Homo sapiens: one gene and its partner. The protein of the gene in region 2 purifies or fractionates together with the protein of the main gene of each other region. This does not show direct contact. Each region holds a gene or a part of one and is shown on either strand. Other genes may lie near its edges.

Region 1 (3,500 bases), on a different chromosome or scaffold from region 2:
AAGAAAAAAAAATGCTGGTTTATAAGACATCAATAAAAAACTTCAAATGTCTTGCCCAAATCAAGATACATCATGTCCACAGCATGCCCCTGACCTGTGGCTCAACCTAGTAATCCTATCAAGAGAAAATTATTTTTATAAAACTCATGCTAGCTTCCTAAGTACTCAACAGTCATTTTTTTTTTTTTTTGTTTGAGACCGAGTCTCACTCTTGTTGCCCAGGCTGGAGTACAGTGGCACAATCTTGGCTCACTGCAACCTCCGCCTCCCGTGTTCAAGTGATTTTCCTGCCTCGGCCTTCCAAGCAGCTGGGACTACAGGCACGCGCCAACAAGCCTGGCTAATATTTGTATTTTTAGTAGAGACGGGGTTTCACCGTATTGGTCAGGTTAGTCTTGAACTCCTGACCGTGTGATCTGACCACCTTGGCCTCCCAAGGTGCTGGGATTACAGGCATGAGCCACCACGCCCGGGCCCTTTCTATTGCTTTTATGCATCTCTGAAAATCTGAGCTTGTGAGGGAGCTCCCAGTGCAGCTGTAGCTGGAAGAGTTGAGTATCTTTTCCAAGTGGGAATTATTCATGACTGTTAAAAGACACTTCAGGGAAATGGAAGAACTAATGATCAACTAGAGCTCAGATTACAAAACCATCTCATCAATGAAACTACATATTCCCTTTTGGAACCTTAGTAGCGAAGCTTTGCTGGAGCAGTATGAGATCCCACTAAGTCATGTTATAAAAAGGACAATCTCAAGAGACGTACCCAGGGTATCACTGGAACACAGAGGATTCAAAATTTCATTGTTTTTTAAAAAAAGGTGGGGGGGGGGGTGGGGGGGCAGGCATGGTGGCTCATGCCTATAATCCCAGCTCTTTGGGAGGCCAAGGCAGGTGGATTGCTTGAAGTCAGGACTTCAAGACCAGCCTGGACAACATAGTGAAACCCTGTCTCTACTAAAAATACAAAAAACATTAGCCGGGCATGGTGGCACACACCTGTAATCCCAGCTACTCAGGAGGCTGAGGCATTGAGAATTGCTTGGACCTGGGAGGCAGAGGCTGCAGTGAGCCAAGATGGTGCCACTGCGCTCCTGCCTGGGCAACAGGGTGAGACTGTCTCAAAAAAAAAAAAAAGAAAAAAGAGGGGGCTGGGCATGGTGGCTCATGCCTGTAATCCTAGCAGTTTGGGAGGCCAAGGCAGGTGGACTGCTCGAGCTCAGGAGTTCAAGACCAGCCTGGGCAATGTTTCATCTCCACGAAAAATAAAAAAAAATTAGCTGGGCATGGTGGTGCATACCTGTAGTCCCAGCTACTTGGGAGGCCAAGGTGGGAGGATCACTTAAGCCCAGGAGGTGGAGGTTGCAGTGAGCTGAGATTGCGCCACTGCACTCCAACCTGGCAAGAGAGTGAGATCTTGTCTTAAATAAAATAAATAAGAGTGAGATAAAAGAGCAATATATTTGTTTTACCTCATCAAGATCTTTGGTCTCTCTACCCAATTCATCATCATCTTCATCAGAATCAAGCTCTGGTCCAATATAATTCCCAAACTCATCATATAAGTCGGTATCCATGATGCTAAAATTCAAGGAGAGAAGAGTTAGATTCTGACAAGGTAATCAAGGCCTTCATGTGGTGGCTCCACCTGTCTAGTCTTAGTCTTATGGTTGGCCATACCCCTTTCACATGCCTCCTCTCCAGTGACATCAACCTACTGAATGCTCCTCCCAAAGCCCAGTACTTTCCCCAAGTCTCTGCCTTACTTGTCTCTATTTATGTAGTCTTCCCTCCACTTTTCTTGTTTTGGGTTTTAAGGAGCAGAGAGTTGAATAGGCAAGAAGGAAGAAAGAAGACAGAAGGAAGAAGCTCCGCCGTACAGAGATGGGGCGTGGGGGGCGCTCCAAAGCCAAAAGAGGAGGTCCCCCTCCCTCCACTTTTTTAATACTAAATTTAATTTTAAAACAACTCAGTATCAAAAAATGGCAAGAACAGTACAAATAACTTACTTTTTCCTAAATTATTTGAAAGTGAGCTGTTGACACAATGGCTCATCACCTCCTAATACTTTAGTGTAAGGGTGGGCAAACTCTGGCCTGTGGCCAAATCTGGCCCCTCCAGCTGTTTTTACATGGCCCTCAAGCTAAGAATGCTTTTTCACATTTGTAAATTGCCAGGGAAAAAGTCAAAAGAAAAATATTTCATGATACATGAAAATTAATTATAAGGAATTCAAATGTCAGTGTCTATTAAAAAAGTTTCATTGGGAGGCCGGGCGCGGTGGCGCATGCCTGTAATACCAGCACTTTGGGAGGCCAAGGCAGGCAGATGACCTGAGGTCAGGAGTTCGAGACCAGCCTGGCCAACATGGCAAAACGCTGTCTCTACTAAAAATACAAAAATTAGCTGGGTACGGTGGCTCACACCTGTAATCCCAGCTACTCAGGAGGCTGATATAGGAGAATCCCTTGAACCCAGGGGGTGGAGGTTGCAGTGAGGCGAGATGGCACCACTGCACTCCAGCCTGGGAGACAGAACAAGACTCCATCTCAAAAAAAAAAAAAAAAAAAAAGTTTCACTGGAAAACAGCCATGCATATTCATTTGCATCATTTACAGTTGCCTTCACACTGTAATAGCAGAGTTGAATAGTTGAGACTGAAACCATATGGCTCACAAAGCCTAAAATATTATCCAGTCCTTAATAGAAAAAGTTTGCCAACCTCTCCCTCACCATGTGTAATTCCTACAAACAAGAACATTCTCCTACATAACCACAATACAACCATCAAAATCAGAAAATTGATATTCACACATTACTACCACCTTCTTTACAGATCCCATTCAAGTTTCACAGATTGTTCCAATAATACCTTACACACCTAAGGATCCAATCCAGGATCATGTTTGCATTTGGTTGTCATGTCTCTAGTCTCTTTGGATCTACAATCTTCAGTCTTTGGATCTACAATCTTCAGTCTTTCCTTCCAAGGACTGTCATGAAATCCTTAAGGATGTCCCTTGATTTGAGGTTGTCTGATGTTACCTTATGATAATATTCAGGTTATGCGTTTTGGGCAGGAATATCATAGAAGTGATGCTGTGTTCTTCTCAATGCATTTCGTATCAGGTGATACATGATTTCAATTTGCCCCATTAGTGGTAACGTTAACTTTGATCACTTCATTAAGGTGATGTTTGCCAGGCCTCTCCATTGTAAAGTTACTCATTTTCCCTTTGTAATTAAGTAGTGTTTTGTGGGTTTTCTCCACTTCAATTACTGAAATTCTATTCAAAGAAACAGTTCAAATGCCACCACCTCCTTCAAGCTTTCCTAGCTCCTCAATTTCTCATTCCTCTATCCTACTAGAGCTTTTTGCACCTTTATCAGTATTTAATTTTGTCTTAAATAGTAGTTAACTGGCTGGGCACAGTGGCTCATGCCTGTAATCCCAGCACTTTGGCAGGCCAAGATGGGCGGATCATGAGGTCAGGAGATAGA
Region 2 (3,500 bases):
CGTGCACCACCATGCCCAACTAATATTTTTGTATTTTTAGTAGAGATGGGGTTTCACCATGTTGGCCAGGCTGGTCTCGAACTCCTAACCTCAAATTATCTGCCTGCCCTGGCCTCCCAAAATGCTGGGATTACAGGGGTTAGCCTCCACGTCCGGCCTAAAAATGCAGTCTTAATCTAATAATGCAGGAACACTTGAAGAAGCCACAATGGCAAACAGTCAAATTCCTAACTCAAAATTCTCTCTCTTTTTTAAGACAGAATCTCACTACATTGCCCAGGATGGTCAAGCTTCTAGGCTGAAAAGATCCTTCCATCTTCAGATCAGAATTCTTAATGACATCACTCATTTACTTTGTGTATTTTTGACAAAAATTACATATACGATGGTGTACAACATAATATATGTATATATTGTAACATTTACTTTAAAAAAAAAATCTATTAAAGTGAAATGACCACACATCCTGGTTGGCCTGGGACAGTTTGATTATGCTATTTAAGTAAAAATATCAATAGTGATCCCTTTCAGTCTGAAAATAATCCAGTTGGACCATTAATCATATGGCCATCTTACACAGAGAAGATCTGAATATGTTCACCCAACAAAGAATCAGTATTCAGTTATTAGGCTTAATATTTAGTCTGGAAGGATAAAGCACCAGTAGTTTTAGACACTAGCCACAGGTATTTTGACGTGGTCATTTATTTGAACACCTGAAACCATCCTACTACTGACCTGGCTGCCAAACAAGCCTACACATATAAGAATAACCTGAACATAAATCGTAACATTTTGTCTATAAATATTTACCTGAGGTTCTTGATTCAACTATAGAAGCAGCAACAATCCAATCAATAACAACTAATTAGATAAGATGAAGTAATTTTACGAAATCCTTAGAAAATACAGCAGTTATTTGAAAAGTAACTTACTTTACAGCATTTGGATCCAAACTAGCATATAAGTAATATAAGCATTTCATTCTCTCTTCTGTTTCCAGGTTGTGGGGGACAAGATACTGAGCAAAGATTTTCTCTACCAACAGTCTAGGAAATAACAACAACAAAAAAAACCTAAGTGACACAATTATTCCATTTTTAAGAAGCAATTTTTTTTTTTTTTTTTGGAGACAGGGTCTTGCTCTGTCACCCAGGCTGGAGTACAGTGGTGCAAACTCGGCTCAATGCAACCTCTGTCTCGCAGGTTCAAGCGATTCTCCCACCTCAGCCTCTCCAGTAGCTAGGACTACAGGCGCGTGCCACCATGCCCAGCTAATTTTTATATTTTTTGTAGAGACAAGGTGTCCCTATGTTGCCAAGGCTGATCTGGAACTCCTGAGCTCAGGCAATCCGCCTGCCTTAGCGTCCTGAAGTGCTGGGATTACGACGGGCATGAGGCACCACACCCAGCCAACATTTTAAGTTTTAACCATCTTATGCCAGGATACCATATCAAGATAATAGCTATGTGTGCACATACAATGGAAGATATCAGTTTATAATGACTTCCTTCTTGGAAAGCTTTCAGTACAGTTTAACTTTAGAGACACGGTTACTGTCTGTGGCTTTATAATTTGTCAGTATGAAACATTTGTTCTAGAAGGTTTAAATGTTATTCCTAAACACAGGGTGCTAGGCTGTTCCGCCTATTCTTCTTCAGCAGTCTAGAACAAAAGCAAATTCATTAACGCAACATATAAAGCTATGATCCGCGGTAGAGCTAATTCTCAAGAAACTCATTAATTTCCTCTGATTACAGTTCAGCCCATTTTCCATGTTGTCACATAGTTAAAAACAGGGGGACCCCCCTTCATATTACTTCCAGAAAATGTAGTTTTTCCTGTGTACATCTGATTATTGTTCTCTCCATGATCTAAATTCCTTACCAATATTGGAATATCCTTCTTGCTAGTACCTATTGCTTGTATCTTCTTGCTTCTATTATTTAATATCACTGGATTAAGAATATACAAGATCTCTTAATTAACAAATGAAATACATATCCAGTGATGCCAGAGAAGTTAGTTTAATTAAACAAAACAATGGAAACTATTCTGCACACACCAAGTATCATTTGTACGATCCAATATAGAATTATAAGTAATATTCAGAAAATGAAAACAACTTAGTAATTCCTCTATTGGTAGTGGTGTAAAAAGGAAAGTAACTAGCAGTTAACTCAATAGTGCTCTCTTGCCACACATTGGGCTAGGATGCTTTATATTCATTATTTTATTTAATCTACATGATAATCCTGTGGGAAAGGCACTATTATTTTTCCTTTTTATATAAAACTGAAGCGCACAAGACCTTAATGAACCTATGTAAGAATACACATCTAATAAAGGGCAGAGTGAACATTTGGTCTCTAACTCCAAAGTTCATGCCTATTTCATATTATAAGGCTACCTTATAATCGTGGACAGTCTTGTTTAAACACAGTACATAAAAATATGTAAAAAGCTATCTCTAAACTTAGAAATAAATGATTAATCAAGTTGAATAAACTTAATTTTATTTATGAAGTAAATACATAAAAATAAGAAATTACTAAAATATTAAATAGACATTTTTTAAGTAAAAAGTAGTTTTACACTCAACCATTCTACCAACATATTAAACTCACTTGTCGTCAATGCTGTTCTGATAATAAATATGCAGAAGTTTGTCCTTTATCCAGCTGACTTTCTCTGCAGCTTCCTTTCCTGCTTCACCATGAAGACAGTATTTCTTATAAAGCTGAGCCAGACCCATCATAGCTTCTTTTCTTACTCGCCACTAAAAAGCATAAAATTTATTAGATGAGCAAGATAACAAAACTCTGTACTAATCTCCAAAGACTGCCTTGGCTTCATTAGGTTGTACAGTCTTATGTGTGCCTTTATAAACTGGCACACTATTTCTCTTCAAAAGAGGCTTTACAAACAATTTTATTTTTTTTTTGAGACGGAGTCTCACTCTGTCGCCTAGGCTGGAGTGCAGTGGCAGGATCTTGGCTCACTGCAAGCTCCGCCTCCCAGGTTCACACCATTCTCCTGCCTCAGCCTCCCAAGTAGCTGGGACTACAGGCGCCCGCACGCCCGGCTAATTTTTTATTTTTAGTAGAGACGGGGTTTCACCCTGTTAGCCAGGATGGTCTCGATCTCCTGACCTCATGATCCGCCCGCCTCGGCCCCCCAAAGTGCTGGGATTACAGGCGTGAGCCACCGCGCCCAGCCTACAAACAATTTTGAATCTGTTCCTATTTAGAAATTTTCCAATGCAAATATTGCTAAATGATCTACTTTTTTCTTTTTAAAGAAATGGGGTTTCGTTACGTTGCCTAGGCTGGTCTCAAATTTCTGGGCTAAAGTGATCCTCCTGCCTTAGCATCCTGAGTACCTAGAACTACAGGTTACTGATTTTTTATTTCCCTTGAAAACTATTAATAACCTTATGGGAGAGTTCATTTGATTCTATTGAAAGAAAATTCACCAAGTTTTAGAAGTGATTATAATT

Evidence for each region. Proteins that work in one complex are often made in the same cells at the same time.
Region 1: the proteins of PDS5A (region 2) and EFTUD2 purify together in Homo sapiens (affinity purification with western blotting; 2 studies listed by BioGRID, with this or other methods). This does not show direct contact.

The regions. Positions count from the first base shown.
Region 1 is NC_000017.11:44,892,946-44,896,445, forward strand, and holds part of EFTUD2 (116 kDa U5 small nuclear ribonucleoprotein component), read right to left. Parts: intron 1,581-3,500; 5' UTR 1,577-1,580; coding exon 1,472-1,576; intron 1-1,471. UniProt on the Homo sapiens protein: Required for pre-mRNA splicing as component of the spliceosome, including pre-catalytic, catalytic and post-catalytic spliceosomal complexes. Component of the U5 snRNP and the U4/U6-U5 tri-snRNP complex, a building block of the spliceosome.
Region 2 is NC_000004.12:39,901,412-39,904,911, forward strand, and holds part of PDS5A (sister chromatid cohesion protein PDS5 homolog A), read right to left. Parts: intron 2,781-3,500; coding exon 2,629-2,780; intron 1,050-2,628; coding exon 936-1,049; intron 1-935. UniProt on the Homo sapiens protein: Probable regulator of sister chromatid cohesion in mitosis which may stabilize cohesin complex association with chromatin. May couple sister chromatid cohesion during mitosis to DNA replication.